3 linked regions of the Homo sapiens genome follow. The protein of the gene in region 3 interacts with the protein of the main gene of each other region in a biochemical or structural test. Each region holds a gene or a part of one and is shown on either strand. Other genes may lie near its edges. The genes, in order: USP10, RAB7A and SNX3.

Region 1 (8,731 bases), on a different chromosome or scaffold from region 3:
AAAAAAAAAAAGCTAGCCCTTCCTCACGCCTAAAACTCTAGTTATAGGTGGAAGAAAAGTTTCTGCTGCTGGCACCTAACTTAGAATACATTGTTGTGGCACAGAAGAGCAAAGAGGTAAGAAGCAACAGAGAACCAAGCGTAATTATTTCAGCACCAGTTTGGGAAAAACTAGAGACTAGAATTTCCTCACCTGACGAATCCATGAGCAACAACAGCAAAAGAGAGCAGGAATTCCCGATGGTAAATTGGCTTAATGCTATGCACACATCCTCAGAGATGTTGACAACCAGGCTTCAGGATGAATTATAAAGTTCCAGTTCTCTGGGACATCAGATGCTCACAGTTACACTGAGCTGTGGGGGAGTGTGCTGATCCCATGCTGTCCACAAAGGTCCTATTTCAAGATGTGGGGTGCAGAGCAACAGCCAGAGCAGCTCTTAAGGTTCTGGGGAACACATGTGTACTTACATTTTTAAAAACATGTTTTTTTGCAACTTATAAATCCCAACACGGGCCCTGGCACAGAGCAAGTACTGGGTAAATGCTTGCTTAAAAGGCATAATCATGGACTTAATGAATGCCAAGCCAAACTGAAATCTCGTTCTGAAGACACGACATGACAGCTCTTCAAAGTGGCAAAATGTCAGGTTTCTCATCTGCTCACAACTGTTCCACCATTCCACTCGGCGCTAAAATAAGTGAGTATCACACTCAGAGGGAGGGGCACAATTCATATTTTTGTTGTTGTTCACGCCTAACCTAGACTGGAGATGTAACACTTTGTCCAAAATACGATTTCGTTATTGCTATTCATGCGAAAGGGCTCAACAAGTTAAAACAAAAAAAGCTGTACACAAACCCATGCGGACGACCTGCAACCTGAGCCTGGCTCAGACGGCCTGGGGACCTGCTCACAGGGATCCTTACTCAGTGTCTCTTGGTGGCACCCAGGGTGCCAGGTGATTCTGGTATTAGAAGAGGGCACTCGAGGATCACAAACCTAAAAACGCTGTTAAATCCAATGATTCCAAATTTCTAAAGTTTACTACCAAAAGTACTACAGGAAACATTTAAAATAAGGTAACAAGTCACCTAAGTTTTCCTTAATATTTTCTACGAATATAATCAAGGGACAGATGCTTGTTTTTAAAGGTGCCTCCCCCTCAAAATAAAGGGAATATGTCCCTAAATGACCTTCCCTAACTACTCTATCCAATTACCACTGAGGACACTGAAGGGCTACCTGCCTCACATTAATCTGTCTCAAAAGTCCCCAAAAGAAATGCCCTACTTCTTTCCCCTCAAAGTTATGAGGCTTAAGATGCCAAAATGAGCAGAGAGTAGAGTCCCAGCTATGGAGGAGAGCCTAAAGAATCAAATCCCTGACAACTTTCGAAGCATCTAAGTAAGACCCCTGCACAATCAACTCAACCCAGCAATCTTTTTTTTTTTTTTTTTTCCGAGATGGAGTCTGCTCTGTTGCCCAGGCTAGAGTGCAGTGGCACAGTCTGGCTCACTGCAACCTCTGCCTCCCGGGTTCAAGCGATTCTCTTGCCTAAGCCTCTCAAGTAGCTGGGATTACAGACATGCGCCACCACGCCCGGCTAATTTTTGTATTTTTAGTAGAGATGGGGTTTCAGCATGTTGGCCAGACTGGTCTCAAACTCCTTACCTCAAGTGATCCGTCTACTTCGGTCTCCCAAAGTGCTGGGATTACAGGCGTGAGCCTCGCACCCGGCCTCAACCAGCTATCTTAACACAGAGTTGCTACCAACTTCACTCAGTCCTGAGCTTGGATTACCAAATTCTTTCTCTCTCCTCTCCAGACTCCCGGCTAACCACTTCACCCTACACACCATTTCAGCCACAAATTTATCTGTTTCCCAAACAGGCTGCAGGCTTTGAGACAGTTCCTCTGCACAGTCTCCTCCACATGCCCTTGTCCGTGTGCTTCTCTGCCTGAAAAACTCCAGCTCAAATGTCACCGTTCTACAAGAGACGTCTTCCCAGCTTTGCCCAACATTCAGTCCCACTCTCCTCCTTTTTTGAAACACCTTATACCTAACTCCTGAGTCACGCAACTTCTCTCCACCTCCACGGCACCCTCCGAGTCAAAAGTCCAAGGACCCTGCCCTAAATGATCTCCTTATGGCCACTGCGACCCCGTGAGTCTATTCTTCACTGGGCAGAGTATGATCCCAAAAGGCAATGTGATTATGAGGTTCCATGGTCAAATGTTGTACCACCCCCTCTTCCACACTTTTCTCAGAATAAAGACAGTAACATCTAACAAAGGCTGCAAGGTTGGATGGTGCGTCTGTCCCTCCCCTCCAGCTCTGTGCCCAAGACACACAACTCCTTGCTGAGTTCTCCAAAGTGCTCCAAATTCCCTCCAGCCAAAGGTCCACCACACATGCTGTCCCCACTGTCTCATGCTGTAAACACGTCACTTCCACGGGAACGGTTCTCTGACTTCAGATTGTGTTCCCTTCCTTTGGGAAACATCTCTCAGTTTGGAGTGACGTGTACGTAACTGTGATTATCTGATTAGCAAGCTGTCTTCCTCAATGGACCCATAAACTCCTCCGCGAGAGAAACAATGCCTGTTTTCGCTCATCACTCCCTCCTCAGTGCCTGGTACACAGCAGCCACTCGGTAACTATTTGCTGAATGAATGAACAAACGAATGAATGAATGTTCTTGACTATGTTGTTCACACTTGTGTTACAGGAATTACCACCCTAAAACTGGATGCACCCAGCCATTAGCCTGCTTCTCTCCCTCACTACCCAGCGAACCTCTAAAGCACAGGAATTCTCTCTTCAGCTCTATACTCCTAACGTCCGGCCACCAAAATCTGTGAACAATCACAAAAGATATAAAGTCCTTCATATGTGGTTCTGAAAAAAGTGTCTAGTATTCTACAAATTAATTCTAAACAAAATAGTAAACCACACTTGGAAGCCCCGATTTTGCATTCTATTACAAGTCAGAAGTACTTAAATGTGGTTATCTCTCAGGAGTGGGACCTGAGTTGGGAAGTGTTTTGTTTTTTGCCATTGCAGTACTCTGATGAAACAAAGTGACAGAAGACAAAAACATGATTTTGAAGAAGATGGAGAAAAATTCAGGTGAATTACCCAGTTTCTCATTATTCCCTAGGGCAGGTGACTTACCAATCTCCAACTAATAAAAAGTTTGTCCTCTCATAAATCTAGTGCAAAGGCAATGGATGGACAAGAATCTGAATGTGAATCAGACCTCCTTTTTTGTTTTTTGAGATGGAGTTTCACTCTTTCGTCCAGGCTGGAGTGAAGTGGCGTGATCTTGTCTCACAGCAACCTCTGCCCCCACGGGTTCAAGCTATTCTCCTGCCTCAGCCTTCGGAGCAGCTGGGATTAAAGGTGCCCGCCACCACACTCGGCTAATTTTTGTATTTTTAGCAGAGATGAGGTTTTACCATGTTGGCCAGGATGGTCTCAAACTCCTGACCTCAGGTGATCCACCCACCTCGACCTCCCAAAGTGCTGGGATTACACGCGTGAGCCACCACGCCCAGCCAGACCTCTTTTTACACTATGAACACCGGACAGCATGACTACTACTAAGGGGGTGGAAGTCTTCAAAATATTTCTTATCTTTTCTTTTTTGACGTAAGAGTCTCGCTCTGTCACCCAAGCTGAAGTGCAGTGGCACAATCTCGACTCACTACAATGTCCACCTCCCAGGTTCAAGCGATCCTCCCACCTCAACCTCCCAAGTAGGTGGGACTACAGGAGAGCACCACCATGCCCAGTGAATTTTTGTATTTTTGTAGAGAAAGAGTTTTGCTACGTTGCCCAGGCTGGTCCCAAACTCCTGAGCTTGAGTGATTCGCCTGCCTCAGCCTCCCAAAGTGCTGGGATTACAGGCGTGAGTCACTCACTGCACCTGGCCCAAAATATTTCTTAAGAAAAAAAAAAATTGTTTGGACAACATGTTATAAGTTGTGGCAGCACTTCCACAATCCCCTGCACACTGGATCCTGATAAGTCACTTCAATCTCCAGAATATCTGCTTCATTCCCTGGCAAAATTAGGTAAACCTAAGAAAACTGACTTCAGTGGATGTTTTCAATAATTTTGAAAACAAGGTTTGCTCAATAAAGTTCAGTGACTAGATACAACAGACCATATTATGAAACAACGGAACAACAACAACAAAATACTCCAGTGGAAAAAAGCATAGAAGACACACACCAAACTGACGATTAAGGATCAGAGAGGAAGGGAATGACTTCTACTTTTCACTTTAAATACGTCTGTGCTGTTTTCGTGTCTTAAAAATAGCATGTCTTTATACTAGAAAATAAAATAAACGACTTTATTAAAATGTACCCCACACAAACTTTAGTGAATAGTAACATATTATAGTAACAAATTTTGTAATTAGTAACATTAAAGTTTCTAAATGCACATTTCATTCATTCATTCTGTAAATGTTTATGGAGGAACTACTAAGGGGAAGTCACAGTGTGAAAGATTATGCCTTCATCAGTCTCTTCCAGAAAACCAGTCTGGCAAAGTAGAAAAAGCAAAGGATTTAGAAGTCAAAACACCTGCTTTTAAAAGGTCCTGATGGCCAGCAGCCATTTGACCTCAAGCCACAACCTCTCTGGGTCTTATCTTACTCATCTGTAAAATGGTTATAATAATACAGGACAGAGTTGCTGTAAAGGCTCAAACAAGCTAAGGCACTTTCTAAACTATGCAGTTTATAGAGTTTATAGGCTTCAAATGATGACTACTACAATGCTTAGTATCTCGTAATAAATATGTTTCTCCTTCTCCAATGATCAGATCTACCCAGAAAGCCTACTTCAGGTCTTGAATAAATATATATATAGTCTTGGCCCGGCGCGGTGGCTCACGCCTGTAATCCCAGCACTCTGGGAGGCCGAGGTGGGCAGATCCCGAGGTCAGGAGATGGAGACCATCCTGGCTAACACCGTGAAACCCCGTCTCTACTAAAAATACAAAAAATTAGCTGGGCGTGGTGGCGCACACCTGTATTCCCAGCTACTCCGGAGGCTGAGGCAGGAGAATGGCGTGAACCCGGGAGGCGGAGCTTGCAGTGAGCCGAGATTGCGCCACTGCACTCCAGCCTGGGTGACAGAGGAAGACTTCGTCTCAAAAAATATATATATATAAAAATATATATAAATATAAAAATATAAATAAATATAAATACATATACAAATAAATACATATAAATATATATATAGTCTTTGCAGCCACGTAAGGGAAATTATTACTTAAAATACCAAGAGAAGGGGTATATAGGAACTCTTTGTACTTTTCTCTCAATTTTGCTGTGAACCTAAAACTGCTCTAAAAAATGAAGTATAAAAAAATTGTTTTAATGTATCAGAAGTTTTTTATATTGGGCAGGAATCTCGAAAACCTCTAGAATTGAACTTCATTTTCAAATCCTCTTCTATTTTTAACCAAAACTTCAACATGTCCTATCAAAAGTAAAAAGACTGATACTTGCAGAATGAATAGGGAGGCTAGGCGCGGTGGCTCACACCTGTAATCCCAGTACTTTAGGAAGCTGAAGCAGAAGGGATCCCTTGAGGCCAGGAGTTCAAGACCAGCCTGGGAAACACAGCAAATCCCTGTCTCTACAAAACAACAACAAATTGTTTTTTTCAAAGAATGAGTAGGGATGCTGGGGGCAGTGGCTCATGCCTGTAATCCCAGCACTTTGGGAGGCCAAGGTAGGTGGATCACCTGAGGTGAGGAGTTCCACACCAGCCTGACTAACATGGTGAAACCCCGTTTCTACTAAAAATACAAAAAAATTAGCTGGGCGTGGTAGCAGGCACCTGTAATCCCAGCTACTTGAGAGACTGAGGCAGGAGAATCGCTTGAATCTGGGAGGTAGAGGCTGCAGTGAACCCAGATCGCACCACTGCATTCCAGCCTGGGCAACAGAGCAAGACTGTCTCAAAAAAAAAAAAAAAAAAAAAAAAGCAAGCAAGGGCATGATTATGTCTGTACTCAACATACACAAATGGAAAGGAGCACATCTTCATAAAACAAAGACAAATGGGAAAACAAAAATCTAGCACCATCAGATCAGGAAGAAAGAAAGAGGGAAAGGGACGGAGGGAGGAGTCAGCTAGATGTAAAAATCAGGTTCAAAAGGCACAGGAGTGGCTGGGTGTGGTGGCTCACGCCTATAATCCCAGCACTTTGGGAGGCCGAGGTGGGCGGATCGTGAGGTCAGGAGATGGAGACCATCCTGGCTAACATGGTGAAACCCAGTCTCTACTAAAAATACAAACAATTAGCTGGGCATGGTGGCGGGTGCCTGTAGTCCCAGCTACTCAGGAGGCTGAGGCAGGAGAATCACTTGAACCCGGGAGGCAGAAGTTGCAGTGAGACAAGATACCGCCAATGCACTCCAGCCTGGGCGACAGAGCGAGACTCCGTCTCAAAAAAAAAAACAAACAAAAAAAACAAGGCACAGGAGTGGGGACACTCACCTTTTTATTAGGGATACTCTCACTTCAAAATGGACTGGTTTTGAGACTCCTGAGCCATAGAGTACAGGCTTAAGGAGATGTCCCTCCAGCTAATACCAGAAAAATAAACTGAGAATGGATCCGAAGAATGACAACCGATAAGGCTGTACACACAAGCCCAACGGGGAGGAGACTGAGGACTCTTAGGAGCAGCCACCATTACAGCGCAGACGGTAGCAGGTGCTGGGCCCGCACTCCACATGCACATTCTCCTAACAATTCTCATGTGAGCCCAAAAGGGAAAGTCGAGGAATTCAGGCTGTAACAGCCCCAAACCACATTTCTATCTCAACACCTTACCTGCCCTATTCCAGGAGAGGGCAACCAGGGCATGATGTTTCAAGACGGGACAGAATGGCAGTGCTGGTAGAGCTTCTGGGTTCTCAAGTCATCTGATGAAAATGGGATCATGGCCCAGGAGCTTTCAAATAGCCAGAAAATAGCCAGTTCAGAAAAAATCTAGGATCTGAAGATTCTACATCGAGGTTTATGATAAATTCTACATTTTCTGATCCTTGAAACAAATACTATACACATACCCCAAGGGCTACCTTTATTTTCCTACACTAATTCTTCATCCAGCCTGTATTGACAGAAATGGTCAAAGAAAGACCTTTTGGGAGAACACTTCAATAAACAGGAAAACTGCAGTCCAAGCACATACAAGTCTCTGGAAATGAACATCTACACTGCTGAAGTGGCACTAAAGTGACAAATGACAGTAATCCAATGGCCCAAGGCCAGCAAATTCCATTGCAAACAGATTTATCTGTTTTGTGCGATGGTGATTCTTGCATGTGTGGCAGTAAATAGAAAAGTAACAGCCTAATTACAAATTCAAAAGCAAGCTCTTCCCACTACGTTTCATATTTTGGTATAGTACCAGTAATAAGTGTCCTCAGCAACCACGTTTAATGTGCCACCTGAATACCAGGAACCATTAACAGGAAGTACCTACATGTCTGAAATTATATCTTTAAAAACAAACAAACAAACAAAAAACCGAAACAAAAACCCTGATGTAACTAATTCAATTGGAGATGATACCACTTTTCTCAATTACTTGAATGTTATATTCTGAGCACAGCACAGTGCAACGTGCCGCTTAGGCTTGGCATTAAACAGCAATCATTAAGCTTCGTAATCCTTTTCTCCTTTAAGTTTTCCTATGTGAATCACTGCTTAAATCCTATCAGTTCCACGTAACAGAACACTGGAATACATGTCCTAACTTTTGCTTTAGTGAGGAATTTAGAATGTGGTAGGCCCGCTTAGTATTCACTGGAATTTCAGTGCGCTGTGCTCTCAATGAGATGGGCTCAAGAGCATGATGGTGAGGTCCTGGTACGGCGCGGCTGCTCAGGCCATCTGTACAAACCACTAAGGCGACCACTGGCTCACAAACTTCTCAGGCCATCTGTACAAACCACTAAGGTGACCACTGGCTCACAAACTTAAAACATCTACTCTTAGGACATGTTTAAATAGCTTGCTGTCACTATGCAAAGGAAAACTGTTATCTCCAAATGCCCTGTCAACATTTCAAACAATTGTATTTACTTCAGCTGCTCATTACTTGAGATTCTAATAAAAATGTATCTCTTTTAAGAATTAACACTAATCCAGCTGTTGGCTAGAAACAGATATTCAGCAATACAGTAACATTCAGCCATATGCTAGAGGGGGAATCCAAGACTTTCCATCATGTAAAATGTGGAGGATCTGCTATTACAAGCTAAAAAAGAGACTGGGGTGAGTCTATGCAGAGACAAGGACAGAAGCCAACTGCATGACATTCAAATTGGGTGTAGGAAGCATTATTGTGGAGATTTCACTATAAATGACATCAATAATCACAAATATTTTTTCGGTGTAAGGCAAAACTAATAGCTTCAAATTAATTACCCCAAATAATTTAACCGGTCCCCTCAGTGACAAGGATATTCACTTGGACCTACACTTCAACTGTTAAAGTTCATTTATTTGTCTTTGCTAAAATGCTGAGTTACCGGTCTCAAAATGTTTCCAAATTCTTCACTATTACACTTCAATACAGGTAACAGGGATCAACCAACACTTTCTAATATTTGGAAATAAGGTTATTAACCTATAAACTTTTTTATTTATTTTGAGATGGAGTTTCGCTCTTTTTTTTTTTTTT
Region 2 (10,392 bases), on a different chromosome or scaffold from region 3:
CTCTCAAGGGCAAACACCAGGTTCTTATTAGGCTGTGCTCCCAAGTCATGGTCTGGTTCTAAGTGTGAAGATGAAACATGATCACATTGAAAATTTGAAATCACTGGTCATCACAGAGCTGGGAAAATTACTGTAAACCTCACAGGCAGGTTAAAACTGCCCCTGGAATGATTGGCCCCAGATGTGATGTGCAACTCAAAGATCTAGAAAAATGACAGGATAATCTACTCCTATCCCAATAGTTTGGTTTCAAAGTGAGGTTGTACTGACAACCTCAGCTGGCATCATGGACCATGAAGAAAGAGATGAAAATACAGGAGGGAAAATCCTGGGATTCTTTTTTTTTTTTTTTTTTTTTTTTAAATTTAGAGACAGGGTCTCACTCCATCACCCAGGCTGGAGTATAATGGAGCAGTCACAGCTCACTGCAGGCTCAAACTCCTGGGCTCAAGGTATCCATCCTTCAGGGGTTTCTTTTCTAGGGATGTTAATACATGTATACAAACAAAATGACTCAATGGGGGAAAAAAAGGGAATAATAGTTTATAGCCAGAATGTGAAGGCTTTTCAACAAGTCATATGAAAGAATCTGTATCTTATCCTAACTGTTGAAAGGGAACCCTTGAAAGATTAATAAGCTGATACATAAAAAAAAGATTGGCTCAATAGACACACAACTCTTGAAGTTACGTATGAAATAGGAAGTCAGAAAAATAAAGTTTATGTCTCACTACTGAGGTGAGACAAAGATGTTTACCTAAAGCACTGGGCAAGGATGTCAAGAGAGGCACAAGACAGAGACCTGCAGGTTGCCAAATTTAGCAAACAACAAAACCAAAAACAACAAAAAACAAGAAAGGATAAATCTGAGTTTTTTTTTAAGAAGAATTTTTTAGTGTGTCTTAGCAAGTCGTATCTGAGATACACTAGAAGTATACTAAAAAAGTATTCACTATTGATCTGAAATTCAAATTTAACTGAGTATCAGCCAATTATCTACAAATAAGATAATAAGATTTGAAGAACAGGGAAGGAAAATGTCTATGCATGAGGAAAGATTAAGACTAAATGAACTATCAAGGCCTGGTCAGCACAGCCAAGACATGTGCTTACCTGCATTGTGACTAGCCTGTCATCCACCATCACCTCCTTGGTCAGAAAGTCAGCTCCTATTGTGGCTTTGTACTGATTGCTGAATTTCTTATTCACATACTGGTTCATGAGTGATGTCTTCCCGACTCTGAAATTGGAGAAAAACCATAAGTATAAGTCAAATAGGAGGGTCCTGAAACTGACACGAATTACTTGAAGCATTTAAAAGAATCTGCCTGACCTGAAGGACAAGAAACTGCCCTCACAGCAAAGGGCAATGCCAGTAGCCTTCCGAGCATTACACTTTTGAAGTTTTGTGTTTTCTCTCTGGGTAAAAATATAGGGTACAGATGTGGGGCAGATGTGGAAAAGCTGCTTACATGTTTTGGCACAGCCAGGTCAAATGGTAGAGCCTAGTATTATTTTTTCCATTCTAGAAGGATGCCAGCAAATATACTGCTTTCTAAAAGAAGCTTCACTATTAAGACTGTTCTGCTATTCCAACAGTATCCCTGCTATCTTAGATGTTTCTCCATTTAGTGGCTGCTATTTAGCTTGATGAAGTAACACCAGGAGGAAGACCTTGGCTTTCAGCAGACACACACCACTCAGACAATTTGCTGCTTTAAAGTTTAAAATCTGAAGCAGAAAAAGCACCAATATATCACCAAAACAAATCCACCTCAAAGAATGCTCCTCCAAATATGTTTTCTAGTAAGAAAACTCAGCAAGAGACAATGTGTGATTTTTGTGTGATAAGGTTAAGGTAACCTAAAGCTAATACAAAAACCTTCCCCCCCATAGCCAGTGATATCACCTTTCTTGGCCACAAAGGAACATGTTCATATTTGTGTTAAAGAACCTGGAGGTACCTAGACAGCCGAAGGCAGTGTTTTCCAACCCAGACCATCTAAGCCAGAATCTACAAGGTGAGAGGTGGCAAAACCTGGAATCGAACAAGGGCTTGGTGAGACTTTTTGCACAAGTTTGGGGAAGGCAGGCCTAAAAGCACTATCTTTCCATCCCGACGGGGATGGAGTTGCGGGGTAGGAGAGAGAGCACAAATCTAGGCCCTAGCCCACTGGTCTGGGGCTGGGCAAATGCTAGCGAACAAAAGGTTCTTCAAAGGCTGGGCATGGTGGCTCAAGCCTGTAATCTCAGCACTTTGGGAGGTCGAGACGAGTGGACTGCTTGAGCCCAGGAGTTTGAGACCAGCCTGGGCAACATGGTAGAACCCTGTCTCTATAAAAAATACAAAAATTTAACCAGGAGTGGTAGCACACACTGGTGGTCCCAGCTACTCTGGAGGCTGAGGTGGGAGGATGGCTTAAGACCAGGAGGTTGAGGCTGCAGTGAGCTGTGATTGCACCATTCACTTTAGTCTGGGCAACAGAGCGAGACCCTGTCTCTCACACACATACAAAAAAAGGTTCTGCAGGTGATTCAAATAAGCCAGTCAAGACAGAAAAACCTCTGGCTTTTCAAAGGAAGGGCAGGGGACTTTGGAATAAAGAAGCATACCTGCATTTGCTATTGTTGTTATTTTTAAAAATACATAAGCTTCCAATGAGTCAAAGCTTTCATGGGTCCCTTCAGATGCCAAGTCTGAAAAGCCTACCACAGAATCTTTTTATTTTAAGAGTTGGGGTCTTGCTCTGTCACTCGGGCTGCAGTGCAACGGCATGATCATAGCTTGCTACAGCCTCAAACTCCTGGGCTCAAGCCATCCTCTCGCCTCGGCCTCCCCAGCAGCTGGAACTACAGGTACGGCACCTGGCTAAATTTTTTTTGTAGAGACAGGTCTCCAACTCCTGGGCTCAAGCAATCCTCCCCTCAGCCTCCAAAGCACTGGGATTATGGGCATAAGCCACCTCACCCAACCTACCACAGAATCTTAAGAGCCATTAGAGTTAGCTACATGGTTAGTGGCACATCTAGAATCAGAACCCAGTTCTGCCGTCCCAGGCTCTTTTGCAGATAGATCTGAAGCAGGCACAGCAGCAGGAGGATACTGTATGGTGCACTAAGAACGCACATCTGGGTCGGGCGCGGTGGCTCACGCCTGTAATCCCAGCACTTTGGGAGGCCGAGGCAGGCGGATCACGAGGTCAGGAGATCAAGACCATCCTGGCTAACACGGTGAAACCCCATCTCTACCAAAAATACAAAAAACTAGCCGGGCGTGGTGGCGGGCGCCTGTAGTCCCAGCTCCTCGGGAGGCTGAGGCAGGAGAATGGCGTGAATCCGGGAGGCGGAGCTTGCAGTGAGCCGAGATCGCGCCACTGCACTCCAGCCTGGGCGACAGAGCGAGACTCTGTCTCCAAAAAAAAAAAAAAAAAGCACATCTGCTACGCCAGATGCCAATGGCAATACATCTACGTAAGGAAGACTCCCCAGCCTGGCCAGCTTGGAGAAAAGGGATTCCATGAAAATGCCTATCCTTAGTTGAGTTCAAATAGCCATCCGTTCCCCATAAAAAATCATGCTAAAAACTAGAGAACAAAAGGTTATATAACAAGGGATCATCTAAATTTCTGCCGTGGAGGGAAACATGTAAGGCCCTAAGCCTCACTATGAAAGCAAGAAGTGGCAGCACGGACAGTGTGGGCTCCACAGCAGAGAGGCTTAGCTCTAAGCCAATCTGTTAGCTCAAATTCATGAGTAACTTACCCAGAATCTCCCAGGATGATAACCTTCAGCAACACTTTCTTCCTAGAGGTCATCCTTCAAACTAAAGGGGGAAAAGGAGAAATCACTGTGAGTGTGATGGAAACACCAAAACAAAACACCTCCCTTGCACAAATGTCTGAGCAGCCCCAACAGTGCAGGGCCCTGAACCTTCCTGCTAGGTATCTTCCTTCCACCAGGGGGCACTGATAAAAAACAGTATCACTCACCAAAACTCTGGACCCAAGAGCGAGGCAGAACAGCACAGCAGGGCCATCCTGCCCCTGCAAGCTGTTGGAGAGAATGTATTCTCTCACTTGGGTGGTGGATCAATTGAATGGATTGGCAATTTGAACTAATGCTCCAACTTACTCAACAGCTTGGTCCTTGCTTCATTCAGGTCGCTGCTTCAGTATCACTTTCTCAAAGAAGTGACCGCTTTATTTAAAGCAGCATAACCCCTCATTTGCTCTCTATCCCGTTACTCTGCTTGCTTTTCCTTCAGAGCACTTACCACTAATTGACATTTTTATGTACTATATTAATCTAGTCTATCCCTTTTCTAACAATCTCCATGAAGACAGTTTTACTCCCCACTGTATACTCAATGCCAAGTAGAAATTTATTAAATGTTGGGTACCGTCTGAATACTTGACTCTGCAGCTCTAGTGACTACTCTTTTCCAGAAAATCTTTCAGGCAGCCTTGTCTACTCATAACCAGAAGATGTGAAAAATGCCTGATCTCTGCTCAACTGTCTTCCAGGACTTGCCACAGCATGGTCTATCTACTCATCAAGACAGGGCTCCTGCTGTAATTGCCTCTCATTTGCCAGGGTATGACTCAGTGACTTCCAGAAAATGAATGGGACTCAGAAGAACTACTTGTTAGTTTCCTCTTTAACCACCTACCTTTTGAAGGCAAGGCTGACAGCAGTGCCTATAGTGGGAGTGACTTAAGCAGCAGATATGAACCCAGGCCACAGGGATTTCTATTCTGGTTTTGCCGCTTATTAATTTAGCTATATGACCTTGAGCCAGTCATTTAATTTCTCTGTTGGAATAGGGAATATAGAGATGACAGCTCTTATGTCCTAAGAATGCTGTGAAGACTGAATAAATAAAATGCTCAGGACAGTAACTAGAATACAGCAGATGACTAGTAAATACTGGCCGCTACCATCTTAAGGTATGCCAAATACAGAGATGAGTAACAGAACACAGAGTCCAGAAGACAGTGAGAGAAGCAGCAGGTTACAGCTCCTAGGCAAGGTAATCCAGCTATCCCTCTCTTTCCAGATGCTTGGCTGTCAATTGTTCTCTTTCTCAAGAGGTGGTATTACACCCAAGACCACTAACTAAAAGGAAATATCAGACCTGACTACTGTCCTAAAGGGCAGGATTTGCTAAGAAGGCCTACGCTCTTGAAAGTAACCATCCTCGATGGCTTCAGAGTCTGTTTCTGGCTACAAGAACAGTATGGGAATAGGAGCCAGACTAGAGGATGGTTTGCTAGGCACACACCCCAGGTCCCATGACCTATGCAGAGGGTCAAGCTGTTTCTCTGCCAAAAGCCTCATGCCCATGGCTGGACTGTGAAGACACGGTATCTCAGCCCACCAGCATTCATCTAGAAAGTTCTTACTAGTGCTAGTTAGGGGCAGTATAAGATGACTTGGAGTTCTGTCTTCCATCATAATCAGCACTGAGAGGTATACCCCAAACTATCCATTATATGTGGAGCCCCACTATTCCCCTACCTTTCTCCCCAGGGACCGCTTTGACTGGTCAAAGTTTAAATGTCACACTCTAAGGTCTGGTATCATATTTCAAGATAGAGATCAGATGATGATAATGGGGGCAAGTTTCAAATAGAAAGAAGGGGAGGCCAAGGTAGGCAAATCATGAGGTCAGGAGTTCGAGACCAGCCTGGCCAACATGGTGAAACCCCGTCTCTACTAAAAATAGAAAAGGCTGGGCACGGTGGCTCATGCTTGTAATAACGGCACTTTGGGAGGCCCGAGGTGGGTGGATCACAAGGTCAGGAGTTCAAGACCAGCCTGGCTAACATGATGAAACCCTGTCTCTACTAAAAATACAAAAATTGCTGGGCACAGTGGCTCATACCTGTAATCCTAGCACTTTGGGAGGCCAAGGCGGGCGGATCATGAGATCAGGAGATCGAGACCAGCCTGGCTAACACGGTGAAACCCCGTCTCTACTAAATATGAAAAATTAGCTGGGCGTGGTGGCATGTGCCTGTAGTCCCAGCTACTCAGGAGGCTGAGGCTGGAGAATGGCTTGAACCCGGGAGGTGGAGGTTGCAGTGAGCCGAGATTGCGCCACTGCACTCCAGCCTAGGCGACAGAGCGAGACTCCGTCTCAAAAAAACAAAAAACAAAACAAAATTAGCTGGGCATGGTGGCACGCGCCTGTAATCCCAGCTACTCAGGAGGCTGAGGCAGGAGAATCGTTTGAACCCGGGAGGCGGAGGTTGCAGTGAGCCGAGATCACGCCACTGCACTCCAGCCTGGGTGACAGTGCGAGGCACTGTCTCAAATGAATAAATAAATAAATAAATAAATAAATAAATAAATAAATAAATAAAAATTAGCTCGGTGGGTGCCTGTAATTCCAGCTATTCGGGAGACTGAGGCAGGAGAATCGCTTGAACCCAGGAGGCAGAGGTTGCAGTGAGTGGTGGGGAAGGGAAAAAAAGGCTGGGTGTGGTGGCTCACACCTGTAATGCCAGCACTTTGGGAGGCCGAGGCAGGTGGATCACTTGAGGTCAGCAGTTCAAGACCACCCTGGCCAACATAGTGAAACTCCATCTCTACTAAATACACAAAAAAATAGCTGGGTGTGGTGGTGCGCACCTGTAGTCCCAGCTACTCGGGAGGCGGAGGCAGGAGAATCGATTAAATCCAGGAGGCAGAGGTTGCAGTGAGCTGAGATCACACCACTGCACTCCAGCCTGGGCGACAGAGCAAGACTCTTTTTCAAAAAGGAAAAAAAAAGAAAATAGATAAAAAGATGATAAAAGGATATGCAAAGATATTTGGAGAATATTTATGAAAGTGACTGATTTTAAGAATGGGAAAAGGGATTTGCATAACTTGCTTTGTTAATAGGTTTCACTGGTGTACCAATGCTGTTTAATAATATTAAAAAGAAAAAAAACAGGAAATACACTTCAACCTCCAGACTCCTACATGATAGAATTCATGTTTGTTTCCTTCCCTTTGAGTCTCTACCCACACGTGTCACAAAGCAGTGACCGTGAGACCACCTTACGTCTTAATGTCTAATATTCCTCTGAGTGAATTAAGCATTTAAATAGCCATTCCCGCTCTTTATTTAATATAACAAAAATTTGGAAAAAATGCTGTAATCTATGGGATTACTTCCTTGAGATACAGCAACACCTGTGTGAGGGTTGATGGGTGGGTAGATCTTTCTAGATTCTGACTCGTAAGATTATCACAGGCCACATGTGGCACAAGCCCACTGAGAAAGACTGGGACAGACAAAGCTGGCAGGCAGGGCAGTGGCAGGTCATCAGCAGCAGCAGTTCTTGCAAGAGTCCATACAGAAGATGGCTCAGGCACAGGGAGACTGTGCCGACTCAATACCTTGACTCAGAATGCTCAATCCTGGGGGTGCAAGTATCTCTTTTGACAGCTCCTTAGGCTCCCCATAAGGACATGCCCAGCAGAGTCACTGTGTTCCATGAAACAAAAGCCTGGGTGGCCCATCACTTATCCATGGCTCTTTCCCATCCAAATGTAATTTACCAACCAGGGGACATTTTACCACAAGGACCATGCCCAGAAACAAATGTTATGTTCTGCCTTATCTAGCTCCCAGGGAAACAGAGCTAGAAAGTTAAACAAAAGTCAAATTCTCATGCAAGGAAAGGATTTTGTCAACTGTAACTCACAGATTCTGTTTAGGGATGGGATTTCTGAGTCCAGAGCAAAGTTTTGGCCAGGCGCGGTGGCTCACGCCTATAATCCCAGCACTTTGGGAGGCCAAGGAAGGTGAATCACCTGAGGCCAGGAGTTCGAGACCAGCCTGGCCAACATGGGAAAACTCTGTCTCTACCAAAAATACAAAAAATTAGCTGGTCGTGGTGGTGGGCAACTAATCCCAGCTACCAAAAAGGCTGAAGCAGGAGAATCGCTTGAACTCAGGAGGCGGAGGTTTCAGTGAGCTGAGATCACACCACCGCACTCCAGCCTGGGCAACAAGAGCAAAATTGTCTTTAAAAAAAAAAACAAACAAAACATGAAGAAGTTTTCATGATTTTTGCTAATTCACTTTCCTGAAAGATTTTTCCCATTTATACAACAATCACTATTACAGTGGTTAGCACGAGTACAGGACCTAAATGAGAAAAATAATTTTACAGAGAAAAAAAGAATTTGAATAAACAGTCTATGGGAGCCTTAATGTAAAGACTTGCATTCATGCATTCTCTCCTATTTAAACAAGTCCAGGGTTGTTGTTGTTGTTGTTGTTTTTGAGGTGGGAAGGGGAGGCTGGGGAGCATTTAATATAAACAATCCCGTTTTTATTCATAAAAATAAATAAATACACAAGAAATGTCCCTTCCCCTAAAACACAAATGACAAGAGACTTGCCTTTACAGTCTTGAAAAGCATGTTATAAAAATACAGTATTAACAGTGGGGTGCTGGAATAGGACTAAACCGATCAATGAAACAGACACCAGAAATGAACAATTTTGACAAATATGGCATTATAAAATTCAGTGGCAAAAAGATGAACAATTCACTAAATGGTAAGAGCCAGAAAAATTTTGGTGAGAATTAAGATCTCTACATCTCCTCTTCCAAGAGATTCCCAAAGGAGTAAAGATTTAAATGTAAAAATGGTTACACATGAAGCAGAAAGGAATATACACAAATATTAGCAAGTTGTTCCATGTGGTGGGATTACAGATGTTTTTGTTTCCTTATACTTAACTGTGACTCTTAGAGGAGCACATTACCTTTACACTCAAACAGCCACCTCCACTTTGGAGAAAAATGTTAATCTGTTGATTTTTTCAAATCAATTTCTGATGACAAAAATCTCCACTCATCATGTAAGACAAATTACATTTAAATGCAGATTTTCATCTTCACTCAGGGCTGGCTAAGCATTTCAGAGTTGTTGCAAATGGTACTAAACAGCTGATACTAAGAATTCCACATCTTCTTTCACCAGGACATTGATGGCTTTAAACTGGCAAAAGTTAAAAGGTATATTTTTGTACTTAATGTTCTCCCAGATCAAGAATGGGACACTTGTTTCTAGAAAAGAGCCAGGGGCCAGGCGTGGTGGCTCATGCCTGTAATCCCAGCATTTTGGGAGGCTGAGGTAGGTGGATCACGAGGTCAAGAGACTGACAAATCCATCCTGGCCAACATGGTGAAACACCAGCTATACTAAAAATACAAAAATTAAGCTGCGCGTGGTGGCACGCGCTTGTAATCTCAGCTACTTGGGAGGCTGAGGCAGGAGAATCGCTTGAACCTGGAAGGTGGAGGCTGCAGTGAGCCGAGATCACACCACTGCACTCTAGCATGGGCAACAAGAGTGAAACTCCATCTCAAAAAAAAAAAAAAAAGCCAGGAACAAAACACACTAAATGCAACTTTTGCTACAAGAAGCTGCCCAAGCAGAGTTAGCTTCAAAATGTCCAAAAGCAATTTCTGCTTTTGTTATCAATTTCTATTTCCATCTTCATGGATTTCTGAAGACTGAAATTATTTTTTAAAAGCCTATGGCCAGGCATGGGTGACTCATGCCTGTAATCCCAGCACTCTGAGAGGCTGAGGCGGGCAGATCACTTGAGGTCAAGAGTTCGAGACCAGCCTGGCCAACATGGTAAAAACCCATCTCTACTGAAAATACAAAAATTAGCTGGGTGTGGTGAAACACACCTGTAATAACTACTCGGGAGGCTGAGGCAGGAGAATCACTTGAACCCAGGAGGCAGAGGTTGCAGTGAGCCGAGATCGCATCACTGCGCTCCAGCCTGGGCAACAGAGCGAAATGAAGTCAAAGATTTAAAAAAAAAAAAAAAAAAAAGGCTACAAAGTTTGAAATTTCTAACTGGAAAACAGTTCTCTAAAGCACCGACCACTTCCTCTCACAGGAGAATCTGCAGCCAGCAGAGTAGAAAGGAAGAAAGAGTTACATAAGATCTCTGAGACCTGGTCCTTCAAGGAAAGCATTTTAGATAACATCCATTAATCCATGTATATATTAATATCCTCTAAAAATTTTCTAGAATAAGGTATATTCATAACACATTTCTTTCCTTCTGCCACCAAACCAAACCTCACCAGTGTGCATCGGAAGAAGCTCCTCAGAGCGAAACTACCAGTATTGGTACCAGTATTTGAACGATGAAACAATTCTTTCTTTCAAGTACAATGTTTCTCATAACAAATCAAAAGCTGGCATCTTCCTTTATTCGCCTGCAGTCATCACCTTCTTCATCTATGCCACAGAAAAGCCAAATGGCCACATAAGCAGACAAAATAAGGAAACATGAGCAGGTAAAAAGATCAAGAAAAATATTGTTCAAGGGCTTGGGTGGGCAGAGGTCGGTGGTCAGAAAGA
Region 3 (10,392 bases):
GACAAGCTACTATTAACATTTAAGTGAAAAAATTCTCATTAACTTACACACTTTGTGTCGTGAAAAACACAAAAATCAAATTTACCATCCTAACCATTTTTAAGTGTACATACAGCTCAGTAGTATATTCACATTGTTGTGAAACTTAAGTATTTTTAAAAAATGATTCTTACGTAGTTAGCATTGATTTTAAAAAGTTAATCAAACTTTAAGATATGAAACGAATAGTTTAATGTTTCAAGCCACTGTTGTCTTCTTATGGATGTGTAAAATGTGGATCATAGGCCGGGCGCGGTGGCTCATGCCTGTAATCCCAGCACTTTGGGAGGCCGAGCTGGGCGGATCACCGAGGTCAGGAGTTCGACACCAGCCTGACCAGCATGGAGAAACCCCATCTCTACTAGAAATACAAAATTAGCCGGGTGTGGTGGCGCATGCCTGTAATCCCAGCTACTCGGGAGGCTGAGGCCGGAGAATCTCTTGAACTGGGGAGGCAGAGGTTGCCGTGAGCCTAGATCGGGCCATTGCACTCCAGCCTGGGCAACAAGAGCAAAATCCCTTCTCTAAATAAATAAATAAAAATTGAATCATAGGATATGTTGTCATAGGGAAACTGCAAAATCCAGACTTCAGTACACCTGGGGAACTACATTCATACATAAACCTAGTGGAAAAGTGAATGTTTTTCTAATTGTCTGTAATACATGACAGATGGTTCACTAAAAAGAACTTCCTCTTTTGCCCTATTCACTAGTATTTTCTTTTTTTTTCTTTCTTGTGCTAAAACAGAACTTGGTATTCTTGTTTCTATACTTCCATAGCAGGTACTTCCTGTCACAAAACTGAATTGGAATCTCCTGCCTACACTTCCTCCACTTACTTTGAGTTTATCTTGCTGAATGCATTATATTAAATGGGTTCTAGTATAATAATTTAATCCTCTTTTTTTTTTAATACACCTAATACCTTAGCAAATAGCTGATGTGACACTTAAAAATGGTTTCTGGGCCTGGCGCAGTGGCTCATGCCTCTAGTCCCAGCACTTTGGGAGGCTGAGGCAGGTGGATCCCTTGAGCTCAGAAGTTTGAGACCAGCCTGGGCAACACGTTGAAACCCCTTCCCCACAAAAAAAGAAATTAGTTGGGCGTGGTGGCGCGCATCCCTGAGGTCCCAGCTACTCCAGAGGCTGAGGTGGGAGGATCACTTGAGCCCAGGAGGTCGAGGCTGCAGAGAGCTATGATGAGGCCACTCTACTCAAGCCGGCATAACAGAATGAGACCCTATCTCAGGAGAGAGAGAAAAAAGGGTTTTGGTATAGTCATTTACATGTTAAAGAAAATTTTTTTTTTTTTTTTTTGAGACGGAGTCTCGCTCTGTTGCCCAGGCTGCAGTGCAGCGGCGCTATTTTGGCTCACAGCAACCTCCGCCTCCCAGGTTCAAGTGATTCTCCTGCCTCAGCCTCCTGAGTAGCTGGGATTACAGGCATGCGCCACCACGCCTGGCTAATTTTTGTATTTTTAGTAGAGATGGGATTTCACTGTGTTGGTCAGGCTGGTCTTGAACTCCTGACCTCGTGATCCACCTGCCTTGGCCTCCCAAAGTGCTGGGATTACAGGCATGAGCCACCGCGCCTGGCCTGAAAATAATCTTTTTTAAGAACGATTAATGAGTCAGGGAACTAACAAATTATACACTTACTTTGGTTTGTATTTTTGTATAAACCAACTCACTGGGTGTTAATAGCTGTTAACAGTCATAAATGCCAGTGCCTATGTGAAAACCTAATTGAGTTTTTAATGCATGAAATGACTTTGGATTTCTTTCTTTTTTTATTTTTATTTTTATTCTTTTTGAGACAGAGCCTTGCTCTGTCGCCAGGCTGGAGTGCAGTGGCGCGATCTTGGCTCACTGCAACCTCTGCCTTCCGAGTTCAAGCGATTCTCCTGCCTCAGCCGCCCAAGTAGCTGGGACTACAGGCACGCGCCACCACGCCCAGCTAATTTTTGTATTTTTAGTGGAGACGGGGTTTCACCATGTTGACCAGGATGGTCTCAGTCCCTTGACCTCATGATCTGCCTACCTTGGCCTCCCAAAGTGCTGAGATTACAGGCGTGAGCCACCATGCCCAGCCTGGATTTCTTTTAGTATGTAATGTGTTAACTTAAAACTAAGGACACCATATAGTAAGGAAATTAGGCCTTATTTGAGCAGCATATGATTTTTTAGAGTAATTATAGTCTTGCATTAAGGCAGAGTGGCTATGACATGAATAGTTTAATATTTTGTAATTTTTTTCTTCTTGAGATAAGAGTCTCGTTCTGTAGCCCAGGCTGGAACACAGTGGCATGATTGTGGCTCACTGCATTCTCAAACTCGAGGACTCAAGTATTCCCCCCGCCTCAGCCTCCCAAGTAGCTGGACTACAGGGTACTACTATACCTGGCTAATTTTTTATTTTTTGTCAGATGAGACTTGCTATGTTGCCCATGATGGTCTTGAACTCCTGGCCTCAAGTGGCCCTCCCCCTCTCAGTCTCCCAAAGTGTTGGAATTACAGGCATGAGCCACCTCACCCAGCCCTGCAATTTTATTTATTATTTTCTAAATGTTGCTGCTCTCCCGAACCCCTACTGACTACCTTTTGCTGTTGAATTTGCTATGTGGAAAACCATTTTATGTTCCAGAATTTGGGCTTTTAAACTATCTTACAGTTACTGTCTCATTCTGGTCTTGAGAAAAATTTACAGTTTTACAGGATCTGATTGAAATTACTCTAATTCACAGGGCAATTTTATATGGATGGTGGCACTTAGAATGCAAGTTTCCCAATCTCCATTTATCTTTTGGTTTGAGGATAGTGTTTAAGACTATTAGGATCACTTGATTAGTATCTCTGGGCTTTTGAAAATAATTACACAGTGTTATGTTTTTAAAAATTGTTCTAATGGGTAGGTACAGCAGAGAGCACCATAAATGATTAAAGGTTTAGGAAAGTTCAAGGTCTGGAATTATTTAGGCATATTCAAGAGAAGGCTGAAAGCAAAATTCAGTCACTGTTTATGAAGTTTGTGCTGTAATATAACTTTAATATTCTGGAGATTTTTAAGTTAATCAAGATCTATTTTACCTGGAGACCACTGTTTTGAACAGGAATGGAATTAGAATCTTTCTTGAGCTCTGACATAGTCCTCAGTTCAAAGAATAGATTTAACATTTCCTAGCTGGGTAAGATACAAAATCAAAGCTCCACTTCCCCTCTGTGAAATAGGTGTGCTAATAATAGTACCTACCTCTTAGGACTAAATGGGATAAGGCACATGAATCTTTCTAGCACAGTGCCTGGCACATAATAAGCACGCAAAATTTAGCTCTTTCTAAAGATAGACATTTTCTAAATTAAACGTCAGTGATCAACTACATTTTCTGTGTGTTAATGTTTAGTTGAGTTACTAAAATTGTTAGATTTTCTTGTCAAGAAACCTACTTGTCATGGAAGTATACCTTCATTAAGCAAGCATGGTATAAAAATAAGCTATCTTATTTGGTACTTAACCAAGTAACCTTTGTGTATGTATTTATTTTTTCGAGACAGGGTCTCCCTCTGTCTCTCAGCCTAGAGTGCAGTGGTGCAGTCACAGCTCACTGAAGCCTTGACCTCCCAGGCTCAAGTGATCCTCCCAACCTCAGCCTCTCTACTAGCTGGGACCACAGGCGCATACCACCACACCCAGCTAATTTTTAAATTATTTGTAGAGACGAGATCTCACTATGTTGCCCAGGCTGCTCTTGAACTCCTGGGCTCAAGTGATACTCCCACCTCAGCCTCCAAAACTGCTAGGATTATAGGTGTGAGCCACCATGCCAGGCTCCAAATAATCTTTTAAAGTTGAGCTTTATTAAAGCATAAAGCTGAATAATAACGTTGGCTGATAAAAATTTTGACAAGGTGCTAAATAAATGTAGCATCTTATCTTGACAGTGCTTGCCGTTCTAAACTTGTATATGTTTTTTCCTCTGGGTCAGTCATCTAATCTTAAATTAGGAGTCATTAATATCCAGATTGGAAGCTGAGAAATAAATTTTAAAATCTTAGACTTATTTTTGGGAATTATAAACATGTATTATTGAAGGGCTAAAATATTAATAGTATTTTAAAGAATCGGGGGGTCGGGCACGGTGGCTCCTGTATGTAATCCCAGCACTTGGGAGGCCAAGGTGGGAGGACTACTTGAGCTCAGGCGTTGCCACACAGCCTGGGCAACGCAGTGAGACCCTGTCCCTACAAAAATTTAAAAATTAGCCAGGCATGGTGGCGTGTGCCTGTAGTCCCAGCTATGTGGGAGGCTGAAGTGGGAGGATTTCTTGAGCCCAGGAGGAGGTCAACACTGCAGTGAGCCACGATCATACCACCGCACTCTAACCTGGGTGACACAGTGAGACCCTGCCTCTAAAAAAAGCAAAGCAAAGAAAAAAAAATCAGGGCATTTTGATGCCAGAGGACATCTGCAGAATCTATGTAGCTCTATCAATTGGCCAATGAGATGTTGTCTGTTACACATGTTGCTGCCAGCTACGGCTGACTTTTCCAGGATCTCCATCAAGGAGAAGCATGCTATTAGCAGTGAAGATTCTGTCCTTATCTAATCCATCCCCAGAATGGAGAGTGGGGGAGGAAGACAGTGGCTATTTTAAAGTAGTCCTGTTATATTGAGTTTTTAGGGATTCTGTTCTGTTAAGGGATGTATCATTTGAGTATCTTTTATGTGCAAAGCACTGTGCTCTATCTATAAAATTTAATCTTGAGGTAACCAAGCAGAGTAGATAATATTCCTGTAGAAGCTGATCAACTGATCCTCATCTCTTGTCCTTTCCTCATTTTAACTCCAGTCCTGAACTGGTATCTCCCAATTAAGCTGAGTTCTTTTGTATCCAGGCCTTTTGCACACACTTCCTCCTCTGTTAAGAACAGGCTTCCTTTAAGAGCCTCATCTGGTTACTATCACTTATCCTGCAGGACTCAGCCTTAATGTCCCCTTTTTAAAGATTTTGCTGATCCCTTGACTCTGGACCAGATTTCCTTCCTGTGTGCCCTGGTAGCTTTGTTAGGAATAAATTTGTTTGCTTGTCTTTGGCTTCCTGTAAGTTCCTGTGTCACCCATTATAAGCTCTTAGAGGACAGGGACTGTCATAATCACCCTTACTCAATATCCAACACTGCTTGGCACATAGTGGACACTTACAAATAAATGAAGTTTAAGAAAGTTAACTTCCCCAGGGTCACAGCTATTAAATGGTAAAACTGGGATTTGAACCTAGATTTTCGGACCTTCAGAGCCCGTACTTTTGTTTGAGACAGGGTCTCACTCTGTTGCCCAAGCTAGAGTGCACGGTGGTGCAATCTGGGCTCATTGTAGCCTCGACCTCCTGGGCTCAGGCAACCCTCCCAACCTTCGCCTCCTGAGTAATTGGGGCTACAGGAGCACGCCACTATGCCTGGCTAATTTTTTTGTATTTGTAGAGACAGGGTTTCTCCATGTTGCCCAGGCTTGTCTCAGACAAGGTTTTACCATGGTTGCCCAGAGCCCTCACAGAAAATTCATATCACCTGAGGAGCCTTTGAAACCATTCAGGTTCTCTTTTACTGGGGTGGGGTGGGGTTTGGGCAGTGGCGGTTTTTTTTTTTTTCTTTGAGACGGAATCTCACTCTGTCACCCAGGCTGGAGTGAGGTGGTGCAATCTCAGCTCACTGCAAGTTCCACCTCCTGGGTTCATGCCATTCTCCTCCCTCAGCCTCCCGAGTAGCTGGGACTACAGGTGCCTGCCACCACGCCTGGCTAATTTTTTTTGTGTTTTCAGTAGAGATGGTGTTTCACCTTGTTAGCCAGGATGGTCTCCATCTCCTGACCTCGTGATCCACCCACCTCGGCCTCCCAAAGTGCTGGAATTACAGGCGTGAGCCACCAAGCCCGGCCGGCAGTGGTGGTTTAAAAAGCATCCCAGTAAGGGCACTTATATGCAGCAAGGATTTCTCCTGCTGCTTATCATGCTATCTGTCTCACTGAGATAGATAGACAGTAGAGAAGGAAGAGAAATATACATAGAACCACAATGGTTGGTAGCTTTGATGGGATTAAAAAAATAGATTCTAAAATAGTAAAACATAAAATGAATAGCAGATCTTGGCAACAGAGAGGAAAACCAGTGACATTTGTCAAAGATAGAAAACTTTTTGGAGGGGAGGCATTTAAATATTAACTGAAAGCATACCAATCTCTACAGCTTAAGTTTTTGGGAGGAAGGGGAGACACAGACTACATTCAATCAAGCCAGATCTTTTTGCCCTTGTCTTGCATCATCCATGTCTATATCCCTGTATAATAATCATGAAAGTAAGCCAGAAGTAAAAAAAAAAAAAAAAAAAAGACATATGTATTCATTTAAGAAAGGAATTTTTTGGAGACAGGTTCTCGCTGTGTTGTCCAGGCTGGTCTTGAACTCCTGGGCTCAAGTGAGCCTCCTACCTCAGCCAAGTAGTTGGGATTACTGTTGCATGCCATCAAGCATGCCTCAAAAAAGGAATCTTTATAAATATTGTCACTTTATACCTGTAAAGGGGAAAATCTAAAAAAGTGCTTTGAGCTATCCTGGTGATCACATGCAATAGACATTTTCCTCTCCTGCTCACCTTTATCATCATGCTTATCTCACCCCTTCCAGAAAGTAGTAGACTGTTATTATTAGATACTTTGATGTTTGTACCATGTTATGCTGCTTTCATGTAAATAGAGCCAGCAATTTCTTGAACATCAGATAAGAAAGATGGTGTCCAAAAAAATCTTGGAACTGCTATTTTCTTTTTTCCAGAAGTTTATTCTTAGGGCCGGGTGTGGTGGCTCATGCCTGTAATCCCAGCGCTTTGGGAGGCTGAGGCGGGTGGATCCCTCGAGATCAGGAGTTCGAGACCAGCCTGACCAACATGGCAAAACCCCATATCTACTAAAATACAAAAATTAGCCAGTGTGGTGGTGCATGCCTATAATCCCAGCTACTCAGGGGGCTGAGGCACAAAGATTGCGTGAACCTTGGAGGCAGAGGTTGCGGTGGGTGGCAGCGCGACTCTGTGCCAAAAAAAAAGAGAAAAAGAGAAAAAAAGTTTATTCTTAAATGTGCAACAGGCTCCAAGACATTTCATCCTTTGCTTCCTAGAGTGGAAGCAGAAGATTTTATAGTAGGAAATGCAGATATTTAAATAGGAATGGGATCAAGGGTCATCATTGCCTCGGACACAGTGGTTTGTTTTTTGGTTTTTGTTCTTGTTTTCCAGATTTCTCCCTTCTAAGTACTAACCAGGCCCAACCCCGCTTAGCTTCTGAGATCAGACGAGCAATTGCATTCAGGATAGAATGGCCATAGACTTTTGCCGGATTTCTTAATTCCACCTATCCAGGGAACCCTTCCCTGTGGCCTTTGCTTTTAGCTCCTCAAGTTTTTTCTGCTCCTCTTCTTGTTTCTGCTTGAAATCCTTGTCTTCCTCATACATCTCCTTGGCCTGTTTCTCGTCAGGGGCTTCTTGCCGTAGGTGCCTGTCAGGAAGCTGGACGTGGTGCCTGCCATCCCTTCCTTAGACCCAGCACAGGAAACTGGAACTGCAGTTTACTGTTTTGATTCCTTAGTTAAAAGACAAAGCTTTCAACCAAAGTTCTACTTCATTTTTTTGTTTGTTTGTTTGTTTTATTTATTTATTTATTTTTGAGACAGTCTCTCACCCTGTTGCCCAGGCTGGAGTGCAATAGTGCAGTCTCAGCTTACTGCAGCCTCTGCCTCCCTGGTTCAAGCAATTCTCATGCTTCAGCCTCCCAAGTAGCTGGGAATATATAGGTCGTGCACCACCATGCCTGGCTAATTTTTGTATTTTTAGTAAAGATGGGGTTTCATCGTGTTGCCCAGGCTGGTCTCGAACTCCTGGCCTCAAGTGATATGCCCACTTCAGCCTCCCAAAATACAGGCATGAGCCACCGCGCCTGGCCACTACTTCTTTAAAGAAATATTTAACTGACAACCTAGGAATTTGGAATGTGTTAGTAAAATGTGACGTTTGCTATAGCTTGCCAGAAAGGTTGTATCAGGTAGTATAGAGTTTGGGCTGTTCTCAGATAAAGAGGATAATTTTTTGTTTTTTTGGTTTTTTTCTCCACATGGAGAGGTTTCAGGTACAGTCCAGGGTTAGTATTGTGGCTTGACTATCAGCTTCTAACATCATATTCACATTCTAGCCAAGGGGAATGTTTATTTCTGCCCTTGAAGGACACAACCAGGAAGTCGTATTATTTCTGTTTCTGCGCATTGCTGTACTTAGCTACAAAAGAAGCTGGGAAATTTAACCAGGTGGCCATGTGAAGAAGGGAAGAGTAGACACTGTTCTTTGCTTTGCCACATTAACAAATGGTTGTGGTTGGCCCTTCTAGGATATGGCTTTAAGCTACACTGTGATCATCTGTTATTTCCTTTTTTTGCTAATGCCTGGAATTTCAGTTTAGAGTAAGTTCATTTGATTTGCAAGAAATAAAATTGTACTTTCATTAGTTTGGAAGTCTTAAGTGAGTAAGTTTTGATTCTTTCATGATAATTAATTTTGTTAAGTTGAGAAAAAAGGCAAGCATGAAGACATGGCATATCTGATAGGGGTATACCTTGAGATTGGGCTAGAGATTCTAAAGGTAGTTGATTAACCTTTTTTTTTTTCCTTCCAAGGCTGCTTAAAACTATTTTGGTTTTACTTAGGACCACCATTGTAGTTGCTGACATTGAATGATGGAGTATATAATTTGAGCCACCAAAATAAATGAAGCCAGTGTCTCTTGGCAGAGAATCACTTAATCTCTTAGCAGAGAAGTAGAGAATTACTTAAAATAATTTTGTAAAGTTACTTTGTGTCCAGCAGTATTGGAATGGTCATTTGATAATTATTTGTTCTGTAAACTTTGATTTTATCACTGATGGAGCATTTCTTTTGGCTTTCCTAAAGTTATTTTAGCACCTGCCACCTATAGCTTGTTTGCTTTCCGTTTTTTCTAGTCCTGCCCTTGTGGGATGAAGTTCTCTGTTGTATAAGTCTCGTCCATATTGAGAAACAGAGGAGTCTCAAAGCCCCTCCTTGTGTCTGGTCTTGGTATCTCACCCCTCTCTTGTCTTGACTTTACTGGTTATCTTCAAGTGGAAACAAGTAGAGAAAAATCTTGTCAGCTAGGCATGTATGTGTATATCACCAGGTCTTGTCTTAAATTTACACCCAAAGATTCCCCCATGGTATATAACTGAGGACATTCTTAGGACACTGAGGAGTTTAAATAGAGCAAGGGTTGGCAAATTATGGGCTTACCTTTTTTTATAAATAAAGTTTTATTGGAACACAGCATACCCATTTCTTCCCATATTATCTAAGACCACTTTTACTCTATAAGGGCAGAACTGAGTAGTTGAAACAGTATGTTTACTATCTTGCCCTTTAAGAAAAGGTTTGCCAATTTTATGTCTAGAGTTTGCTCATGTAACATTGAAATAATGGAAATCAAAAGGCACTTGGAGAATCTATTATCAAAACATGAGGCCGGGCATGGTGGCTCACTCCTGTAATTCCAGCACTTTGGGAGTCTGAGGTGGGTGGATCACTTGAGGTCAGGAGTTCAAGACCAGCCTGACCAACATGGCAAAACCCTGTCTCTACTAGAAATACAAAAATTAGCCAGCTGTGGTGGCGTGCCCCTCTAGTCCCAGCTACTCAGGAACCTGAGGTGGGAGCATCACTTGAACCCTGGGGGCGGAGGTTACAGTGAGCCAAGATCACACCACTGCACTCCAGCCTGTGTGACAGAATGGAACCCTGTCTCAAACCCTAAAAAATATCATGAGGCTATGGAAAAAGCATTCATTTAGGAAGCCAGTAGTAAACGACTGAGGAAATAGTCATTAAATATAACACTGCACATTCATCAAATAATAAGATCTTAATGCATAACCCTATTGTTGGGTGGTGAATGAAATATTAGATACCATTCTTTCCTCCTAGAGGCCCAGTTTTACATAGAAATTGTAACTTTGTGTTGTCATCCCACTGATAATATTAAGGCCAGGCACAAGGTTTTTCAACTTTTGAAGTTTATTTTCTCACTCGAAACCTTTTATGTAAACTCCTTTGAATACCCACATAAAGGAAAGAAAGTTGGTGCTGATAAACTAGTGGGCAGCAGGTTCATGGTGGTTCAGGGTCGGTCAGCAAACCAGTGCCAACACTGAAGATGATGCCAAACAAAATTGACTGCAATCTGTTCTAGCCAGGATCATGGTTTAGATATTTTCTAGCCAGAATTAATTAATTTATTATTTTTTTCTTTTT

What was found.
Region 1: the proteins of SNX3 (region 3) and USP10 form a complex in vitro, tested with the Homo sapiens proteins (one study listed by BioGRID).
Region 2: the proteins of SNX3 (region 3) and RAB7A form a complex in vitro, tested with the Homo sapiens proteins (one study listed by BioGRID).

The regions. Positions count from the first base shown.
Region 1 is NC_000016.10:84,703,000-84,711,730, reverse strand, and holds part of USP10 (ubiquitin carboxyl-terminal hydrolase 10), read right to left. Parts: intron 6,992-8,731; exon of another isoform or gene 6,904-6,991; coding exon of another isoform or gene 6,871-6,903; intron 1-6,870. UniProt on the Homo sapiens protein: Hydrolase that can remove conjugated ubiquitin from target proteins such as p53/TP53, RPS2/us5, RPS3/us3, RPS10/eS10, BECN1, SNX3 and CFTR.
Region 2 is NC_000003.12:128,788,791-128,799,182, reverse strand, and holds part of RAB7A (ras-related protein Rab-7a), read right to left. Parts: intron 3,824-10,392; 5' UTR 3,816-3,823; coding exon 3,763-3,815; intron 1,241-3,762; coding exon 1,114-1,240; intron 343-1,113; exon of another isoform or gene 1-342.
Region 3 is NC_000006.12:108,249,423-108,259,814, reverse strand, and holds part of SNX3 (sorting nexin-3), read left to right. Parts: intron 1-10,392. UniProt on the Homo sapiens protein: Phosphoinositide-binding protein required for multivesicular body formation. Specifically binds phosphatidylinositol 3-phosphate (PtdIns(P3)).